Regions from separate parts of the Homo sapiens genome. Here region 1 is linked to region 2. The links come from fine-mapping of genetic effects on gene expression. A gene starts in region 2. The other region holds a variant in brackets. All regions are shown on one strand. Distances are between the middles of the regions.

Region 1 (10,587 bases), 48 kb after region 2:
TGTAGTTATATGAATTGGAGTTTATACTGATACATGGTATGAAGTATGGATCCAGTTTTATCTTTTCTTCAAATGGTTATCCATTTGTCCCAACGTCATGTATGAAAAAGTCAATTTTTCCCACCCTCACATTACAAACTTAGTGATTTGAGATGTCACCTGTAGTACATATTAAATGTATATGTGTGTTTGAGCCTATTTAAATTTTTTTTCTTTGACATACTGATTTCATTTCTTTGGAATATATGCCCAGTAGTGGGATTGCTGGATCATATGATAGTTTTATTTTTAATTTTTTTAAAGACCATCCATAGTGTTTTCTGTAATGGCTATATTAATTTATATTCTCACCAACAATGTACAAGAGTTCCCTTTTCTCTACATTCTTGCCAGTACTTATTATCTTTCGTCTTTCTGATAGCAGCTATTCTAACAGTTGTAAAGTGATAGCTCATTGTGGTTTAATTTGCATTTCCCTGACTAGTGACATTGATCATTTTTTTTCTTTTTTTTATTATTATCCTTTAAATTCTAGGGTACATGTGCACAACATGCAGGTTTGTTACGTATGTATACATGTGCCATGTTGATGTGCTGCACCAATTATCTGTCATTTACATTAGGTATATCTCCTAATGCTATCCCTTCCCCCTCCCCACAACAGGCCCCGGTGTGTGATGTTCCCCACCCTGTGTCCAAGTGTTCTCATTGTTCAATTCCCACCTATAAGTGAGAACATGTGGTGTTTGGTTTTCTGTCCTTGCAACAGTTTGTTCAGAATGATGGTTTCCAGCTTCATCCATGTCCCTACAAAGGACATGAACTCATCCTTTTTCATGGCTCCATAGTATTCCATGGTATATATGTGCCACATTTTCTTAATCCAGTCTATCATTGATGGACATTTGGGTTGGTTCCAGGTCTTTGCTATTGTGAATAATGCTGCAATAAACATATGTGTGCATGTGTCTTTATAGCAGCATGATTTATAATCCTTTGGGTATATGCCCAGTAATGGGATTGCTGGGTCAAATGGTATTTCTAGTTCTAGATCCTTGAGGAATTGCCACACTGTCTTCCACAATGGTTGAACTAGTTTACAGTCCCAGCAACAGTGTAAAAGTGTTCCTATTGCTCTGCATCCTCTCCAGCACCTGTTGTTTCCTGACTTTTTAATGATTGTCATTCTAACTGGTGTGAGATGGTTATCTCATTGTGGTTTTGATTTGCGTTTCTCTGATGGCCAGTGTTGATGAGCATTTTTTCATGTGTCTGTTGGCTGCATAAATGTCTTCTTTTGAGAAGTATATGTTCATGTCCTTTGCCCACTTTTTGATGGGGTTGTTTGATTTTTTCTTGTAAATTTAAGTTCTTTGTAGATTCTGGATATAAGCCCTTTGTCAGATGGGTAGATTGTAAAAATTTTCTCCCATTCTGTAGATTGCCTGTTCACTCTGATGGTGGTTCTATTCTGTTCAGAAAATTCTGTTCTATTGGTCTGTCTGTCCAGTCGTGAACTATTATTATGCTAATTTAATTATAGAAGCTTTATAATATGTTTTCATATCTGATATGGCTATGCTCCCCTCCCCACCATTGCTCTTGTCTTTCTTGCTTCTTGGCTGTTCTTGCCTGTCCTTTTTTCTATGTGACTTTATTTTTTTAATTGTATAAATTTATGGGATATAAGTACAATTTTATTACATGCATAGTGGTGATGTCAGTGCTTTTAGGATATCCATCACCCAAATAACGTACTTTGTACCCATTAAGTGATTTCCAATTATCCATCCCCTTCCACTCCTTCACTCTTCTGAGTCTCCATTGTCTATCATTTCCCTCTCTACTTACATATACACCTTTTCTGGCACTCATTTATAAGTGAGAACATGCAATATTTATATTTCTGTGTCTGGCTTGTTTCATTTATGACAATGCCCTCCTGTTCCATCCAAGTTCCTGCAAAAGACATGATTTCATGTTTTTATGGCTGAATAGTACTTTATTCTTTATATATACCACATTTTCTTTATCCAGTCACCTGCTGATGGAAACTAGGTTGCTTCCATATCTTTGCTATTGTGAGTAGTTGATAAACATACAAGTGCAGGTATCTTTTTGATATATTGATTTCTCTTTCTTTGGCCAGATACTCAGTAATGAGATGGCTGGATCAAATGGTAGTTCCATTTTTAGTTCTTTGAGAAATCTCCCTACTGTTTTCTATAGAGATTTTACTAATTTACATTCCCGTCAACAGTGTATAAGCATTCCCTTTTCTCCACACCCTCCCCCAAATCTTTTATCTTTTGAATAATAGCTTCTGATTGGGGTAAGATGATATCTTATTGTGGTTTTAATTTGCATTTCTCTGATGATTAGTGACGTCAAGCATTTTTTCATATACCTGTTGGCCATTTGTATGTCTTCTTTTGAAAAAATGTCTATTTATATCCTTTGCCCACTTTTTAATGACAGTATTTGTTTTTTTTTTTCCCATTGAGTTTTTTGAGTTCCTTGTATATTCTGGATATTAGTTGCATGTAGGATAGTTTCCAAATATTTCTCTCATTCTGCAGATTATTTGTTCACTCTGTTGATTCTTTCTTTTGCTGTTCAGAAGTGTTTTCATTTAGTTATGTCCCATTTGCCTGTTTTTATTGCCTGTGCTTTTGAGGTCTTAGTCATAAATTCTTGCCTAGACCTATATCTAGAAGAATTTTCCCTAGGTTTTCTTCTAGTATTTTTATAGATTTGGGTCTTTTGTTTAAGTCTTTAATCCATCTTCAGTTGATTTTGGTATATCCATGCGACTTTAGAATAATTTTGTCTTCTTTATGAAAAATCTTATTAGCATTTTTGTTGGAATCACAATAAATAAATAAATAGGTTAACTTCGGGAGAACTAACATCTTTATGATAATGAATTTCCTTATCCAAGAATTTATTATGTGTCCCAATTATTCAAGTTTAACTTTGTGTCTTTTTGAAATGTTTTGAATTTTTCCTCATATAGGTTTTGTATGTTTCATGTTCCATTTTCTTCCTAGGTATTTTATGGTTTTTTGGTTGTTGGTTTTTTGTTTTGAAACAGGGTCTTGCTCAGTTGCCTAGGCTGGAGTGCAGTGGCATGAACATGCCTCACTGCAGCCTTGATCTCTTGGGCTCAAACAATCCTTCTGCCTCAGACTTCTGGGTAGCTGGGACTACAGGTGTGTGCCACACTTGGCTAATTTTTTTTTTTTCATAGAGATAGGGTCTTTCTTTGTTGTGCAGGCTGGTCTTGAACTCCAGGCCTTAAGTGATCCTTCTGCCTCGCCTTCCCAAAATGCTGATATTACAGGTGTGAGCTACTGCATCTGGCCTGTAGTTTTTTAAATGGGATCTTCTCTTTCATGATATATTCTAACTGGCTTACACTTGTGGATAGGAAAGCTATTGATTATTTCATTCAATATTAAATTTACTTTTTTGTTTTACTGAATTCTTTTTTATTGGTTATATATAATTTTTCATGAATGTATAGTATTGCATTATATAAAAATACTGTAAGTTAATTAACCAAACTCTTGATATTGAACATTTAGTTTTATGTGTGTGGGAGGTGGGTATGTTTTACATTTTCCCACTATTAATACAAAGATGTTTACATCCTAGTGGCTAAATATTTTTTGTTTCTTTAATAATTTCCTTATAATAGATTCCTGGAAGTGAATTTGCTGCTTCATTGGATGTCAAAACTGGAAAGCTTTAAGAAATATGTTTTGACAAATTGCCCTGGAGAGGGCTTGTACCCATTTATTCTCTAACAAGTTATGTCTGAGAAGGAACAGAGTTTAATTTTACTGGGCCAAGCAAAACATCAAGCTCATTAAAGGCCTAGGGCAATAACTTTCAGATTATTTAGTCACAGACTTTCTGTTTACAAGGAAGTTTATGTATTATATTGAATTATATGAAATTGACATTTTTGCAGGCAATATGGTTGAATATCAGCAGTTTCCTATTGTTCAACTTAACAGAAGCCTAACAGGTATAGCAAAAAAAAAAAAAAAACACAGCTGTTTTGACTGATGATGGAGTAGGGGTATTCAGAAGACCTCAGAGAAGGGCTTAAGAGCAGCTCTCTAGGCACAAAGCCCTGGGTGGGAAGGCAGGTGCGGGATCTGGGAACCCTCAGGGCTTCAGTCAGGGCGAGTGTGTGGACAAGGGTGGTGGACAGTGTGAGGGCCCTGATTGCCTGTGGGATAGGAGCTGGCAGAGAGGACAAGAACATCAACATCTGGCAAGGGAACAGGTGCTTTGGACATTTGCCTTTAACAGCAAGTCTGACCTTGCCCTTTTGTGGGATTGCAATGTCTGAGAAGCAGTACCAAGTTCCTACAGTGTCTCTGTGATGTGTGGAAAGATGTGGGTTCAATCCCAGATCAAGTATTTATTAACAATGTGACTTAGGGCAAGTTTGTAAGTTTTTCTATGAGTTAGTGTTCTTTTCTGTAAACTGTGAATAAGAATTCCTACCATATCAGTTTGTTGTTAAAATACGATGCTATGGCCGGGCATGGTGGCTCACGTCTGTAATCCCAGCACTTTGGGAGGCTGAGGCAGGGTGATCACAAGGTCAGGAATTCCAGAGCAGCCTGGCCAATATGGTGAAACCCCGTCTCTACTAAAAATGCAAAAATTAGCCTGGCGTGGTCGTGGGCGCCTGTAATTCCAGCTACTTGGGAGGCTGAGGCAGGAGAATCTCTTGAACCCGGGAAGCAGAAGTTGCAGTGAGCCCGAGATCGTGCCACTGCACTCCAGCCTGGGCAACACAGTGAGACTCCATCTCAAAAAAAAAAAAAAAAAAAGATGATGCTACAAGCTACCTTAGATACTTAAAGTATTACATAGTACACAATAGATTCTCAAAAATGTCAGTTGTAATAATAATTTCATTATCTTATATTCATTCCTTTTGCTCTCATCAAGGTTCAAAAGGACATCCAAATGTGTGTTTGTTTAGAGTTTATCTTAGGGATTCCACCTCCCTAATATGTCTGTGAACCAAGGAATAGAATAACAGTAATAATTCCTCTCATTTTGTAGAAAAGAAACTAGAGCAGCTTATTGTTTAGCTCCATGAGGACCATTAAGCACTGGGACTCATTTTTATTCTCAAAGACTCCCAGGTGAAAAAGACCTGGAAATCATCTGTTAGTTCAGGTTGAGTCTGATTTCTGATTCACATCTGCAACACTCTTGGTGAGACACGAGCAAGCCTAAGGATGGATAGCAAAACCCACAATACCCATGCCATCACGCCTCTTTCAAGGTCTCATGTAAATATTATTAATTTTTTTAACTTGTCCAAGTTCACAAAGCTAACTCTTTTTTAATGATATTTATTTTACTGCTGAGCCCTGATGGGCCTCAGAATCCTTTTCAACAAATTCTGGAAGCAGCTAATACTAAACAATTTGATCTGTCACATTGAGTTGAAATCTATGTGCTGTTCTGACCCAGCCTCTAGCCGAGAGCTAGCCAAAGGCTGGGAATGCATTTCTACTTGCAAGAGCTAGTTTCATCTCTGGAAAAACATGCTGTCTCATTTCACTTTTTAATTCCCCCAAAATATATGCATAAATGCTTAATAAAGATTTTTATAATGAATGAATAAATAAATAACTAAAGGAAAGATTTACAGAAGTGTTTCATAACTTGCCTCAGATCTCCTGGAAAATGTGTTGGTTCATCAGACATTTACTGAGAACCTATTATGTTAAGTACCATTTATGTGAGGTGATCAGGAAAGTCTGCAATGATATGACTTTTTAAGTTATGGTGAAATATACGTAACATAAAATTGACCAGTTTAACCATTTGAAAGGTACAGTTCAGTGGCATTAAGTACAATCTCACTGTTATGCAACCATCGTCCACATCCATCTCCAGAACTTATTCACGATCATAAACTGAAACTCTCAACTCATTAAACCCAAATCATCCACTATTCCATCCCCCCATCCCCTGGCAACCACTGTTCTACTTTCTGTATCTATGAATTTGACTAC[T/A]CTAAGAACCTCATACGTGAATTCATGCAATATTTATCCTTTTGTTTCTGGCTTATTTTACTCAGGATAATGTCTTCAAAAGTTCATCCATATTGTAGCACATACGAGAAGATGACTTTTTAAAAAGTTTTTAATTAAAACATAACATAAAAAGTGAAAAGTGCATAACTTGCTCACAACCTGAACACATCAGGGTAAGTAGTGTCTACATAAGAAATGGAAAGTTACTAGAAGGGCAGAAGACCTCCCCATACTCCACTCCTAACCCCCGAGAATAATCTCTATCCTGACTTCTAACAGCGTAATTTTGCCTAGTTTTTAACTTTACGTAAATTAAAGCATACAGTATTTTTTTTCTATTTGCTTTTTTTGCTCAATATAATGTTTGTGGTATTCATCCATATTGTTGTGTGTAGTTATATTTCTTTCATTCTCATTGCTATACAGTATGTTATCATGTAAATATGCCACAATTTATATATCATTATATTGTTGATGGAGACTCAGGCAGTTTCTGGTTTTTTGTTAATATCAATAGTCTTGCTATGGCTAGGCATGGTGGCTCACACTTGTAATCTCAGCACTTTGGGAGGCGGAGGTGGGTGGTTCACTTGAGGCCAGGAGTTTGAGACCAGCCTGGGCAATATAGGGAGACCCTGTATCTACAAAAAATTAAAAAATTGGCCAGGTGGGCCAGGCATGGTGGCTCACACCTGTGATCCCAGCACTTTAGGAGGCTGAGGTGGGCGGATCACAAGGTCAAGAGATCAAGACCATCCTGGCCAACATGGTGAAACCCTGTCTCTACTGAAAATACAAAAATTAGCTGGGTGTGGTGGTGGGCGCCTATAGTCCCAGCTACTAGGGAGGCTGAGGCAGGAGAATCTCTTGAACCCTGGAGGAGGAGGTTGCACTGAGCCAAGATTGCGCCACTGCACTCCAGCCTGGCAACAGAGTGAGACTCCATCTCAAAAAAAAAAAAAAAATTAGCCAGTTGTGGTGGTGCACAGCTGTAGTCCTAACTACTTGGGAGACTGAAGCAGGAGGATTGCTTGAGCCCAAGAGTTTGAGACTGCAGCAAGCTGTGATTGTGCCACTGTGCTCCAGCCTGGGCAACAGAGGAAGACTCTGTCTCTATAAATAAATAAATAAATAAATAAATAGTACTGCTATGAACATTCCTGTACATGCCTTTTGGTAAACATATGAATGGATTTCTATTATATATATTATGTATATGCTATATGAATATATCATATAAATGTATATATGCATATATATATATTCAGAATTAAAAATGCTGGGTCACAGAGTATGCCTATATTAAGCTTTAATAGCTTTTCAATGTGGTTTACCATTTAGAAAGGGTCATTTAAGCTGTGGCCTGAAAAACGAAATGGAATGGAAGCTGCATTGAGATTTCCACACTAACATCTCCCTACTGCTATGACAAAAATGTGACCTTTTATAAAGTGGTTAGAGTCAAATGGGAGAAGTCCTTTGCCTCTTTTTTGCTGTGGTCTCCCAGTACACTTTAGTGTGAGGAGCCTCTGTCATTTTGGTCAGACCCAGGGAGTCAAGAGATGATGACTGATGACTCAGCCTCCTCAGCTCGGCTTCCCAGAGCTCCACTCACCACATCAGTGAGCCTGGCATGCAGGGGGAGACATAAACACAACCATGGTGTTGATATCAATCCTAGCAGAGATGTCACAAGCCAAGGTCTGGGAAGAGGAAGAATGAATCAGGATAAAACTTCAGTGGAAAAAAGACCAAGTGAGAGACTTAAAAGTCACGACTAAAGAATTGTGTAAGTAACAGTGGCAAATGACAACAAAAGGCCTCTACAGCTAAAATAATCAGTGGTACCTGTTTCAGATCCCCAGGCTTCTCTGTTTTTGGGAGGTCTTAGGATGCAGGGCTTTGCCAATTGTGTGGCCTGGGATGACAGCCAATTGATGGAAGCTGGAATTCAGGGCTTTCTTCTCAACAGAAGTTAAAGAAGGCAAAAAAAAAAAAAAAAACCCAAACAAAAAATCTGGCCACAAGTGATGTCTATCAGTGTTGTGTGGGTGTGAGAGCCTGCCCCTTTGTCTTAATAGAGAATAGAAACATACCTGAGGAGGAGCCCCAAAGGCCTGATAGGAATGGGTCATTTTGAGAAAAAGTTTCCAATGGGAAAGATAAAAATCTAGTTGTTTTGCCCTTCAATGTTTTAGAGTTTCCTCAGAGCACAGAGAAATCTTAGTTTGCTTCTCCTTAAGGTACTGCTCATAAAGTCCCGTCTTTTAAAGAAAAGGAACAGAGTGAAAAATGATTGATGCATCAAAGTGAAGTTTCCTTTTCCAAACATGTGTCCGTAAGTTGCTGATCTGGGGTCCCTTCAGAATTGCATGCTGTGTCTTTAACCCATTTCCTGTTTGGAAAAAAATGTGGCTCACTGCCAGCACAGTGTTCTTGGGGCAAACGGGAAGTGGCTTTAGGTAGCCAGACAGGTATGCAACAAACTACCTTTCATAACAATGCCTCAGGCCAGAAGGGATTGGGTCTCATGCCAAAAATATCTTTTGATTATCTTTCTTTAGTACGTACAAAAATTGAGACTTAAAAAGTATTTCAGGGCCACCATTTTAAATTTCAGTCGAATGTTCATGTTACTGATTAGAGTTGTGTCTGTAAAAAGTATTAAAGATTGAAGTGTGTTTCTATTCTGTAACAGTTGCATATGTGTGTATTCTAACAGAATTTCTTGTATGAAATAATTGTCTTTCATTTATTTGTTTCTCTTAAGAGTTCTCAAGGAAAATACAAGTTAAATTAGTTAAGAAAATTCTGATTGGTTGGGTTTCACCTACCTGCAATATTGATTTCTCTATATATATGGATAAAAGAAGTCAATTTAAATATGTTGACCCATGTGGTCCAGTTTATATGACATTCAAATAAACACAACTTTGAACACCAAGACTAATTGGAAAATAATTCAAATATTTACCAGGGACTCTTGAAGAATGTCAGAAGAATATCTAGCAGACATCCTAACAATTATTTCTGCATCTTTCTTTCTATTTCCCATCACTCTGAAGTTTTTTTTCAAAGACTTGCTCAACTCACAAAATCTCTTTCTCATCCCTGCATTGCACTCAGGGTTCTGGTCTTTTTCCTCCCTCTCTCCCAACAAAACACAAAAATAAATAAATTTGTCTCTTTATAAGATTGAAAAAAAAAATCCCAGTCTGTATCTTATCTTCCAGTTATCAGATCTTTCTACCCATTGGCCTGATTAGCTTCACAGAGTCCTGGAGACAAGCTAGCAGTCACAGAGAGGGAAGATTGTGAACCCTTATACATTCATGCTTATGGTCCCAGTTGCACAATAATTTTAAATACAATTCATACAACAGGCTATTTCCCAGTCACTAAATGACAAAACTTTCTTTGCAATAAGAGGCAAGGCCAACAGTGACCAAAATTCACATTTTTGAAGACTGGAGAAAGGCATGAGGGAAGAGGTGAAATGTGGTATAAAATGAATAACATCTTTGAGCAGAGGCGGCATTCTGCCTTAGACCCTCCTCTTCCCCTCCTCTCATGACATCACACGTGCCGATGCTTTTCCCTAGAAGCCCTATTTCTTGAAATCTGAGACCATAACCCAACAAATCATTCCCTTGAAAGTTTACTTACTTTTTGATGGTTATTTGATATGAAGAAGAAATCGAAAAGAGAGCAGAACTTCAAGGTTGAATTTGGCCATTTCCATGCTAATTCATATTGGTGCCTGAGAGTGTCCTCATTAGGATCTCATTTCTCTGTTAATGTCAAACAGTATCTGATCTCTGCCTATCCAAGGGCTGGTATGGGCTTAATGCCAGCATTTAATGCTGGAATCTAAAGCTGGGACAGGTAAGGTGCTTCGCCTGCAGCATCCAAAGATCAGAGCAGGCAGAGAGGAAGTCTAGGAGCATACACAGTAAAAACGTATAAATAATATGATTTGATAAGATACAAGCACAATAAAAAGTTAGAAAAGAAAAATACTAAATACACGTTAAATGTATACATGCTGAAGAGATTGCCAGATAAGAGTGTTTACATAGCGTAGTGGAACAAGTGAAGAAATGTTTCCTTAGAGAATAATATATTAAGAAAATGTCCATGTCACCTGTATTGGTTCAGAAAGAGTTATTTTTGAAAGCACCTGGTTGTCTTAGGATTAAACTGCCTAGCCCTTAGGGAAGGAGACAAGGGCCTGTTCATTCATTCATTAACTCATAATATATTAAAATTGTGCTTGCTATATACTAAGCACAGTATTAGGCACTAGAAATAGGGTATGGACTATGACCAACATGTTGCTTATCCTCTTGGAGCTTACAATATAACAGGGAAGATAGACCTTGGAAAGGTTATTACTCATTCAGACAATGAATGTGTGCAAAGACAGTGATGATGGAGAAATGCATGGTGCTATTGAAGGCATTATGGAAGAATATGACCAAAAAAGAGGACAGGGTCGCTTTCTTATCAG
Region 2 (10,252 bases):
GGAGTATGAGCCATGGCACCATGTTACTTCAGAATCTCAGACCCTCTTTCCTGGATTACAGCAACAGTCTTCTCACACCCATCATTCTCTGTGCTCCTACTAAAGGGATTTTTATAAAAACAACTTAATTGTGCCTGTAACCTGCCTAAAAAGTTGTTTGGCTATATTTTCCTAACAAACTTAAATTATACATAGTCCTTTACAACCCAACCCCACTCAAATTTAAAGAGGTTTGTTTCATACCACTCCTTTTCACATATACCATGCCCTCATAAATATCTGTGACTTGCACATACTGTTTTCCTTTTCTGGAAGGCATCTCAACCTTTCCCCACTCGAAAAAACAGTTCAAATGTCACCTACTCTATGAAGCCATCCCCTGCTTTCCCAGGTAAATTTAAATGGATGATCGGGCCTTAATCGTATTTGTATGTATTATTTATTTATTTTATGGAGACGGGGGTCTCACTGTGTTGCTTAGGCTGGTCTCGAATTCCTGGGCTCAAGTGATCCTCCCCCGTGAGCCACTGCACCCAACCATATGTACTTTTAGAACTTAGCACAGTGTCTGGCACAGTATTGGCCTCTCCTAGGAACTGAGTTTTTAAAAAATTATCACTAAAAGATGAATATTACTATTGTGTTTTACAAGAAGACTAAGATAATATATAAATTAAAAAATGAGTACCACCCATGCACTCCTGCAATACTCAGATACAATCACTATTAAACCAAATTTTGTGTACTATTCTGCACTCTTACTTTTGCACGCACACTCATGCATATGTGTATGTGTAGTTCTTTAAATTCAAACCTATGTTTTTGGGTGACTGAATACTTTTTAAGAGAAAGGGTCTTGCTATGTTGCCCAAGCTAGATTCAAACTTCTGGGCTCAAGCAATCCTCCTGCTTCAGCCTCCCAAGTAACTGGGACTACAGGCATGTGCCATTGCCCTGGCTTAAGATATTATTTTAGTAAGCCACTCAGATAAATAAGAAAGCATTTATGGGGACTGGAAATAATAGAATGTGAGCAGGTGTTTAAGAAAACTACCGCTTCATGACTGATTTACCTATCCTGTATCTACGTAGAGTCATATATAACTTCAAAGCTGCAAACTGTGGATTCAGAGGTGGCAATTTTTGTTATTAACATGCTAACAAGGAAGATATCCTTCCTATTATTTATACAGTTTTCATAGCTGTACAGTAGAAATCATAGCACCTTAGAGGATTTATGAAAGGATTAGTGATAATGTATGTAAAATACTTGGCATGTAGTTTAGCAATAAATTATAATTATTACCATTTGTATTGATCAGATACTTTACCGTGGTATGAGGGCAGACACATTATATTGTCCTATTAACAGCATTATTCCTTCAATACAATCATTCTGGATTTCTTCCGATCTTTAAGTTAGCTTTCAGTAATATGAAGTCAGCTTTCAGTAACATCCAGTAATATGAATTGGGGTATTATACATTTGCATAAAATTATAGCTGTTCTTTTTGCTTGTCCTACCTCCTGCTGACTCATAGAATCAGCTTTAAAATAGACAAGCTACATTTATTTTTTGTAATGCTGCTACAGCAATGGCTTAAAATAATTCTGATATGCCCTTAATAATTAAGGCTGCATGCAGACTTTGTTCTAATTGAGAAATATTTCACAGATAATAATAATTTCGGGTAGCTGGGAACTATTAACATGCAACAGGTCTTTCTTCTAATTTCTCTATTTCTCTTTCCCTTCCTTCTTTTTGTATATTGATTTTAAAGGCAAACTCCAGTGGCATGAAAACAGACTCTATGTCAATAAAAATGGTTTGAAAGAAAAAATTATACAAGTAGTTTTCCATACATAATTTATTAAAATCTTGACTCACAGAAAAAATAAGCTAGGAGATATTCAAGGTGTAAAATTTTTTCTCATTGCTGCAATGCACTGTTATACTTTTATTCCTTTTGTGTCTTTATGCTTTGTTCCCCCAATCACAGTGTCAGCTCTTTGGGGCAGGATCAATATCTTATGCTTTTTGTGCCCCTTTCAAGTGCTTATCACAGTGCTTTGTAATTGCTTATGAGGAAATTGTCTTTAAATGTGGTGTCCATAGTATGATCTTATTTCCAGAGATATTTTACTTACAAGTTCAGAATCACATCTATTTATCCTGCTAAAACCTATTAGGTAATTGCTCCTGTTGTAGCTAAATTATTTATCTATTATAATTACAAAAGCCAAGACTGCTTTCTCTTAGCAACATTTTTTCTTCATTTGAGTGATATCTGTGCATCTAACTCCATTATTCAGCAGGGAATTATCCAGGTTTCTGGCTGCTCCTGCTGTTTATTGGCACTACCTTCTGCTTTACCAATGTGCAAGTATCAATGAACCATAATCATTACTTTCATGTGTATATATATTTCAGAATTTTACATGGTTTCCATCTCCACACACTGGCAAATGTGTCCTTCTATTGGCAAATGACACTTCTAACAGGTAGTTGTTCTCTATGGGGCTAAATTTATATATAAATAATTTGTGCAGATGCTAATCTTTTCACACTATTCATCTCTCTCTGTGTATCTATATGTCTGTCTGTCATCTATTATCTATCTATCTATATATCTGTCAGTTCACCTATCCATCCGTTTGTCCCTTCATCCATCTATCATGCTCAGTGTACTGTGCTAGGTACAATAGGGGATAAAAGAAGGCATAAGATTTAGTCTTTTCCTAATATAACTTACCATCTATTGTGGAAAAAAATATGTATACATAGAGAAAAAGATCAGAAACCAGAGTGGTACATGATGTCACAAGTAAGTGATGTGAGCTCACACACTATAGATGATCCACTAAAGATATTTTGGGCTGGAATGATGTGGCATGTTCACTGAGTCTGAGTGATCTGATACAAACGAAAAGCACAGGACAATGAATTGCAATTTTTACCTACACAACTTACTGTTGGAAGCTTATGAGTTGGGCTTTCTGAACTTCATTTTTCTCATCTGGAAATTGGGAATAATGATCATGACAATACCTTCTCTACCTTTTCCTTTGATATTTGAATCATACAGTCAAATAAAGTTATTTAAAAATTTCTGAAAATATTAAAGTGCAATCCAACTTCAGGGTGTGTTGTTTTAATTTTTCATCAACTACCACAATGTGTCTGCTCAAATATTACTAATTTAAGAAATATTAAAAGTTCAACAGGAAGAAAGGAGCAATGCTGGTTATGTAATATGTATGTTTGCATGTTAACAGGAAAAGAAAAATTTGTCAGTAGCATGAAATCTGCCAATGGTGGGAGTATTTACACCATAGAACTCAGCAAACACCACAAATTGGGGCTTTCTTTTTTGGAGAGCTATTTACCAGCATATTACTGGCCTGAACAAAAGCAACAGCAATGGGACTAGAGAGAAGGAAATACATACTAGAGGGATGAATGAGGCAGAATCAGCAATACTCATCATCAGTTGGTTAATGGCAGGTGGAGTGTCAATGGGGAGATTCTAAAATGATTTATCAAGTTATTGGCTCAGATGATTAAAGAGGAAAACATGTGCATCTTACCAAGAGAAGGACTTCAAGATGGGTGAAAGATAGTGGATTTTGTTCAGGGAATGTTGAAATTGAAGTACTTGTGGGACATGATGGTGAAAATGTACAGAAGACAGTGGTTATGTGGATACGGAACTCAAAGGAGAGGACTGGGTTCAATATGGCAGTCATGAGGCTATAACTAATAGCTGAAGTCATGGGACTAGAGAACTTTACAACAAAGGGACCCTGGGAAAGGCTGCAGTAAGTCTTCATGTTTTATAAAGTAATTATATACCATGTCTTTTTGTTAAAAGACAGTTTTAGTGGATAAAGTTATGTTTCTTTGTAAATTCTGCTTTTAGAAGTAAAATTATCACTGCAATGTAAATGAGTTTTAAGGAAGATTGGTATCTGATGAAAAATGTTATGGATTTGATTTTTAAGGTCTTTACAGCAAGATTTATACAAATGAAAGTCGAAAACAACAAAAAGTTTAATATCCAAAAGAAGTTTATGTCAAACATTTGAAAGAACAAAAACATTCTAGAACAAAAAGGGAAACAAATTATTTTAGAAATCAACTTAAATGTAACTTCTGTCTGAGCCCCATGTTGTAATTATTTGCTACTTTGCCTCACCTTTGGGGCTGGGGGCGGGGGGTGGGCTGGGGCACAACACTGTGTCTTTTATCTATGTTTAGGGCGTTGTACATAGTATATACTCAGGAAAAAAACCTGTTTATTCCATGCCAGAATGGGAGGTTTGAACAGATGACTTGGAAGGTCCCTTTCAACCCTGGGAGTCTATAAAAGGGAAGTGGTTATTACCGCTTAAAAGAAGAAGTAGGCTTAGTCCTACTTCCAGAGAGCCAATGTTTTCATAGTTACAGAAAGGTAAATAGACTGTCAGCTCAATATGACACTGGTAAGAATTTTCTAACAATTACGGCTATCCAACAGAAGAAAGGCTGTCTCAGAAGGTGGTTAGCTCTGAAACAACTGGTATTTAAGGGCTGGAAGGACCCTTAGGTATCTTTAGGTCTTCCTAATCTTTTTCATGCCATTGCCTATACAGAAAATGGTATTTCTATAACACAAATAAAAAAATTATACAGCAATTTTTGACACATCAATGTCTCAAGGCATACTTGTCACACGTTCTCAGGGCTTTGGCTGGGAAAACTGATTTAGTCTAACATCCTCGTTTGCAGAGGGGGAAACTGAATCTTAACGAGGGAATGCAATATTCCCAAGTCAAGACGTTAATGTTAATACTGGAACTAGAAGAATTGAGACTAGCGACTGTGGACAACTAGCCAGTTTCCTCTGCTCAAATTAAGCAAGCTGGAGGCCAGACTGAAAGACTGCAGTAGATGGTAGAATAAACAGTCTAAAGCTATATTGCTTTAAATGTGGTCTCAAGACCACCGACATTAGAACTTGTTAAATTCTGGGGAACTCGCTAAAATGAAGATTAATGGGCCCCACATAGACACACGGAATTAAGCTCTGCGGTAAGGCCTTGGAATCTGCATTTTTAGGTTTGCGAATCCCCGCCTCTCCCGTTACTATTTCTGAACTCCGAGCTCCAGCCCTGGCTTGAACTGAGACGCTCCGCTGGGCGCGCAGCAGCCGCCGATCGGACCTCGGGGTCCTGGATGCAGGACTGTCTGTTACGTACAGCCCTTGTGACCGTCACGGGCGGACACCGGCCAACGCCGGGTTGGGGTGAGGCCGCCGCCGCGGTCCCTCCATCACCCTCCTGGCCCGGCAGAGGAACCCACTGCTCCGGGCGGCCGGGGACAGAGGTGGCTCAACAGCGCCGCCTCGAAGCCAGAGCCCTCCGCAGGCTAGAGGATTGCGGTTTCCCTTCATCTCCGCGGCTCTTATTCCTCCCCCGCAAGGCCGCCCACCGGGGTACGCTCTCCCGCGCCTGCGCCAATTCCGCCCCGCCCCGCCCCCATCTACCGACCGGATGTTAGCAGATTTCCCATAGTGCCTCGCTAGTGGCGGGCATGATAACACACGCCGGAGGGTCGCACGCGGGTTCCAGTTGTGATTGCTGGAGTTGTGTATTGCCAGGAGGCTCTCCGAGATTGGGGTCGGGTCACTGCCTCATCCACCGGAGCGATGGCGTTTCTCCGAAGCATGTGGGGCGTGCTGAGTGCCCTGGGAAGGTCTGGAGCAGAGCTGTGCACCGGCTGTGGAAGTCGACTGCGCTCCCCCTTCAGGTAGGCCCGCTTGCCTGTGCCCTAGGGGCAGCAGGGCCCAGGACGTCCCGGGGTTGGAATGTAGACCCTATCCTTCACTTTCTGCCCCTCCTAGGAGTTCAGAGTCACCCTGGTTCTTTGATTCAGACCGCGACCTTGCCAAGGGGACGGTGGCCTTGAGACCAGGCCTTTATTTACTCTCTTAATACGCCGTACCTTCTTGCTACCCTCCACTCGCTTCTCCCATCCCTCCTCACTGTCCAGCTTTGGATCCTTTCCGCCTCCTCTGCGAATTCGCGCCGAGTCTCCGGCCATCATCTAGGCATTGAGGAGGCGGGGCCCAGGAGCTGGAGTATAGACGCTTTCCTTCACTCCCTGCCCTTCCTAGGAGGTAAGGGCTTTGAGACTTCAGTCCTGCAGACGCTCCCCTCCGTTTAGGACAGGGTTTTAATAAGTCTCTAGCATTCTTGTTGAAGGCGTTGGATACATAGTATCTTGATGACATTTCTTATTTGGGATCTGTGTTCATATACATGTGAATATTGACAGTTAAACATCTGACACTGGTTATTTTCTTTTTGTTTATATGTAGTTTTGTGTATTTACCGAGGTGGTTTTCATCTGTCTTGGCAAGTTGTCCAAAGAAACCTGTAAGTTCTTACCTTCGATTTTCTAAAGAACAACTACCCATATTTAAAGCTCAGAACCCAGGTAAGGAGTTTTGGGGCATATACCCTTTTCTCATGTAATAAAAATGCCATTAAGCAGTTAAATACCAATGTTGAATTGCAGTGCTAAAGCATTCAGTGACTGCAGGAACAATCATTTGATGTCTGTAAAATAGGAAGTTCTATTTTATACCAAATGGAAATGCTTTAAATATAAATGAGAACTAGTAAATGGTATTTTAAAAATAACGTATAGTGTAGAAAGCACCCTAGGAAGAGGATAAAAAAGCTGAATTTGGGGCCTTGTTGCCTTTGGTCTAGAGGACCACTGATGAATTATTTTCTCTTGCCTAGCTCCTCCTTTTTCTGGCTCAGGGAATTGTTAATAAAGTTGCAACTTCTGTGGAAGCATCCATAAACTGTAAGTTCTGTAGAACTGTAAAGTTCTATGCAATTTACTGCTAATTTCAAGAGCTTTCAAGATAAGAAAGGATAAACCTTTTCATCATAGGAGTTCAGAGCCACTCTGGTTCTTTGATTCAGACCTCGACCTTGCCAAGGGGATGGTGGGTTGTAAAGGATAAATCCTTTCTTGTCTTGGGTTCCTAAAAAAAAAACATTTCCAGGTAGGATGTTTGTTGACTCTCTAGAAAGCCTCTCGGCGAGAATAAAAAATGCTCACATCAGGCTGGGTGAGGTGGTTCACACCTGTAATCCCAGCACTTCGGGAGGTCGAGATGGGTGGATTGCTTGAGCCCAGGAGTTCGAGAACAGCCTGGGAAACATGGAAATCCTGTCTCTACCAAAAATACAAAAATGAGGTGGGCATGGGGGCGCAGTGCCTGTAGTCCCAGCTACTTGGGAGGCTGTGGTGAGAGGATCACTGGATCCCAGGAAGTTGAGGCTGCAGTGAGCCATGACTGCTCCACTGCACTCCAGCCTGGGTGACAGAGCGAGACCCTGTCTCAAAAAACAATAATAATTTTAAAAAAAAGCTCACATTATAGGTAAGGAGTTAGTTTCAGAGACATGCTTAAGTACCCACATCTTTTAAATGTAAGAGTTAGTACTAACAGGTATTTTTAAAAATCAATTAATTGCACGCCATCATTCCGGTTAAGATGAAGAAGGAAGTGGAGAATAACAGATTGAATTTCGAATAGCTTGTTTCCAAATGATATTTCTGTTATTGAAATACGAGGCTGTGTTATATGGATCGAGAATGTATTTTGTTGTTAGCTTTTATAAATTTAGGAATTCCTCAAAGACTTGAAAAAGTGTTTTGCTTGAAATATGGAAGGGAAGTAAAAAACTTGAAGCAATTGATCATCCAGCTTCTTAAACTAGTAATCAGCCTGGTGTGGTGGCTCGCGCCTGTAATCCCAGCACTTTGGGAGACTGAGGCAGATGGATTGCTTGAACTCAGGAGTTTGAGGCCAGCCTGGGCAGCATAGCGAAACCCCGTCTCTACAAAAAATACTAACATTAGCTGGACATGATGGCGCCTACCTGTAGTCCCAGCTACTCGGGAGGCTGAGGCAGGAGAATCACTTGAGCACAGGAGGTGGAGGTTGCATTAGGCCAAGATTGTACCACCGCACTGCAGCCTGGGTGATGGCCTGGGTGACGGACCCTGTCTCAAAAAAAAAAAAAAATCCTAGTAATCAAACTGTTGACTGTTTCTGGTGGTATATGGTATACTCCTTAGTTGTTAGATAATAGACTTTTGATAATGTTGGATAAATTACTTACGTTTAAATTAGTTGGATAAAGGAAAGTTAAATCATTATATTAAGTTATGTGTGGTATGGATTGTGCTTTCCTGGATATCTTTAGAAATTAATCCTGAGAGGTAAAATTGTGGCATCTTTTTTCTTTTTATTTCATTCCATAGATGCAAAAACTACAGAACTAATTAGAAGAATTGCCCAGCGTTGGAGGGAACTTCCTGATTCAAAGAAAAAAGTAAGCACATAAGTTTTCAACATTGCTGACCAGTTATTCTGCAGTTAGGAGCAATTGTCATGTCCTTTAAAGGACCAGATGGATCAGACTTTTTAAAAAATAATCTGTTATCTACAAAGAAACTTTATGTCTTCTCATCTGCATAAATAATGAGAATATGGATGTATGGGGTGGAGGTGAAGAAGTGGCAGTAGTTTGAAAATGGAAGCTGATTACTAAACTCTCACCTTGATTAGTATATATAAGGAAAATGTATGTTTTAATCCATATACATCTCATCCCAGAGCACATTTTCCACCTGGTGATAAAATCTGTCTGTCTGAAGTCATGCAGTTGCCTTTCCCTGGCATGTGCTATGTTGAATTTGCCAGCAATGGTTTGTTGACTTACTTGGGTTTTTTATTTATAGATATATCAAGATGCTTATAGGGCGGAGTGGCAGGTATATAAAGAAGAGATAAGCAGATTTAAAGAACAGCTAACTCCAAGTCAGATTATGTCTTTGGAAAAAGAAATCATGGACAAACATTTAAAAAGGAAAGCTATGACAAAAAAAAAAGTGAGTATCATTGAAATACTTTTTTCTTATGGTAAAGAATTGAGATTTATATAACTATGAATATAGGTAGTTTTCTCTTAATAGGCAAATAAAATATGGTAGAATGTCATCAAGTATTCTTCAGTTAGGCAGAAGTGGGATAGTTCTCTTATGAAAAGTGAGATAGCCACTAGGACCACTTGCCATTGAGTCTGTTTGGAAATCCTTGTTGCTACTTGCAGATGTATCCACATTTAAGGTGTACAGTTCGTAGAACAGTAATGGAAACTACAGGAACAGAGTTATGAAACAGTCAAACCAGGAGTATCAAGAATCTTTGCTTCTGAGTCTTCTTTAGAATAACGTATTAATTTGAATTATTCTATAGATTATGGTGAGTTTGATATGGAATATTGCTGAGTAGACTGCATTAATTCATTAACACATCGGAAAAATGCCAATTTATCTAATCAATTAAGTGCCTTTAGGATGGAATTCTTTTTTTTTCTTCAAAGAAATAACTATTAAAAACCTCACATGGTTCAAAATTTGTAGTTCCCAGCTTAATGTATTAATTCACATAAATGTCATCATTTGAAAGTTATACATTTTTTTCATAGAGCCAGTATTAGTTTTGAGGTGGTCAGTTTGCTAGTCGTGTACCTACACTATTACAAATGATCATCAGAGTTAAAACTATTTCTTTGAAAGACTAGATTACAGCCTTGAATGTGGGATGCCAATACGTCTTTCCCTGACCCTAATGTTTTAAGCTGTCCTAGCACTAGGGTTGAGGACCCGCCCAGTTTCGAGACCATGATGCCGCTACTTTAGGGTGGCTGATCTAATCAGTAAAAGGGAGCCAGAAAGATACTAAGAGTGAAAAATAGAGTGTCTACATAAGGATGGTGTTTGGAAGAGTGATTACTAAAGTATATCCTCCCTCTTTCATTCTCCCTTCCTCCTTAATGCACCCAGCCCACTGTGCTAAGAGTAGAGAGGACCAGAAGCATGAATTGGACATTTATAAAGTTTCCCTTGTCATTCTCTCTTTCTTTTGTAATTGTTCTTGACTCCCAGTACCAACTAGTTCAGAGATCAAGTGAGAAGTGTGAGGACTAGGAAGTTACAAGTAAAACCCTCAGGAGAGAAATCCCTAGTGATAGCTCTAGAAACAAAGAGGGAAATAGTTAAGTTGTAAAGTGCTTGGAGTCTATAGTAGTTTCAATACTCAGTGACTGAGAGATTCAGGAAGAAGAAACTAAATCAGAGGAGCCCTACTTACAGTTATGAATAAAAGTTGAATTTGTTACT

Direction of the effects. Positions count from the first base shown, and alleles are read on the strand shown. Sizes are in standard deviations (SD) of each study's normalised expression.
With allele A in place of T in region 1, the expression in monocytes after interferon gamma of the gene that starts at base 5,550 in region 2 is higher (large effect, 0.79 SD a copy in Fairfax 2014).

What was found. PIP is the estimated chance that this variant, and not a neighbour inherited with it, causes the effect. A credible set is the group of variants that fine-mapping cannot tell apart.
Region 1: its variant is the best candidate, but not a certain one, in a credible set for the expression of TFAM in monocytes after interferon gamma (Fairfax 2014, PIP 0.61).

Annotation. Positions count from the first base shown.
Region 1 is chr10:58,427,792-58,438,378 of GRCh38, forward strand. It overlaps LOC105378316 (a long non-coding RNA gene), which reads left to right and starts at 6,135. Exons shown (of 5, transcript XR_945984.3): 1 at 6,135-6,250. The variant T/A (reference allele first, on the strand shown) is at 6,057.
Region 2 is chr10:58,379,861-58,390,112 of GRCh38, forward strand. TFAM (transcription factor A, mitochondrial) reads left to right here and starts at 5,550. Exons shown (of 7, transcript NM_003201.3): 1 at 5,550-5,788; 2 at 6,360-6,478; 3 at 8,330-8,400; 4 at 8,810-8,959. The coding sequence starts at 5,688. RefSeq lists enhancers at 5,001-5,100, 5,294-5,950 and a silencer at 5,231-5,610.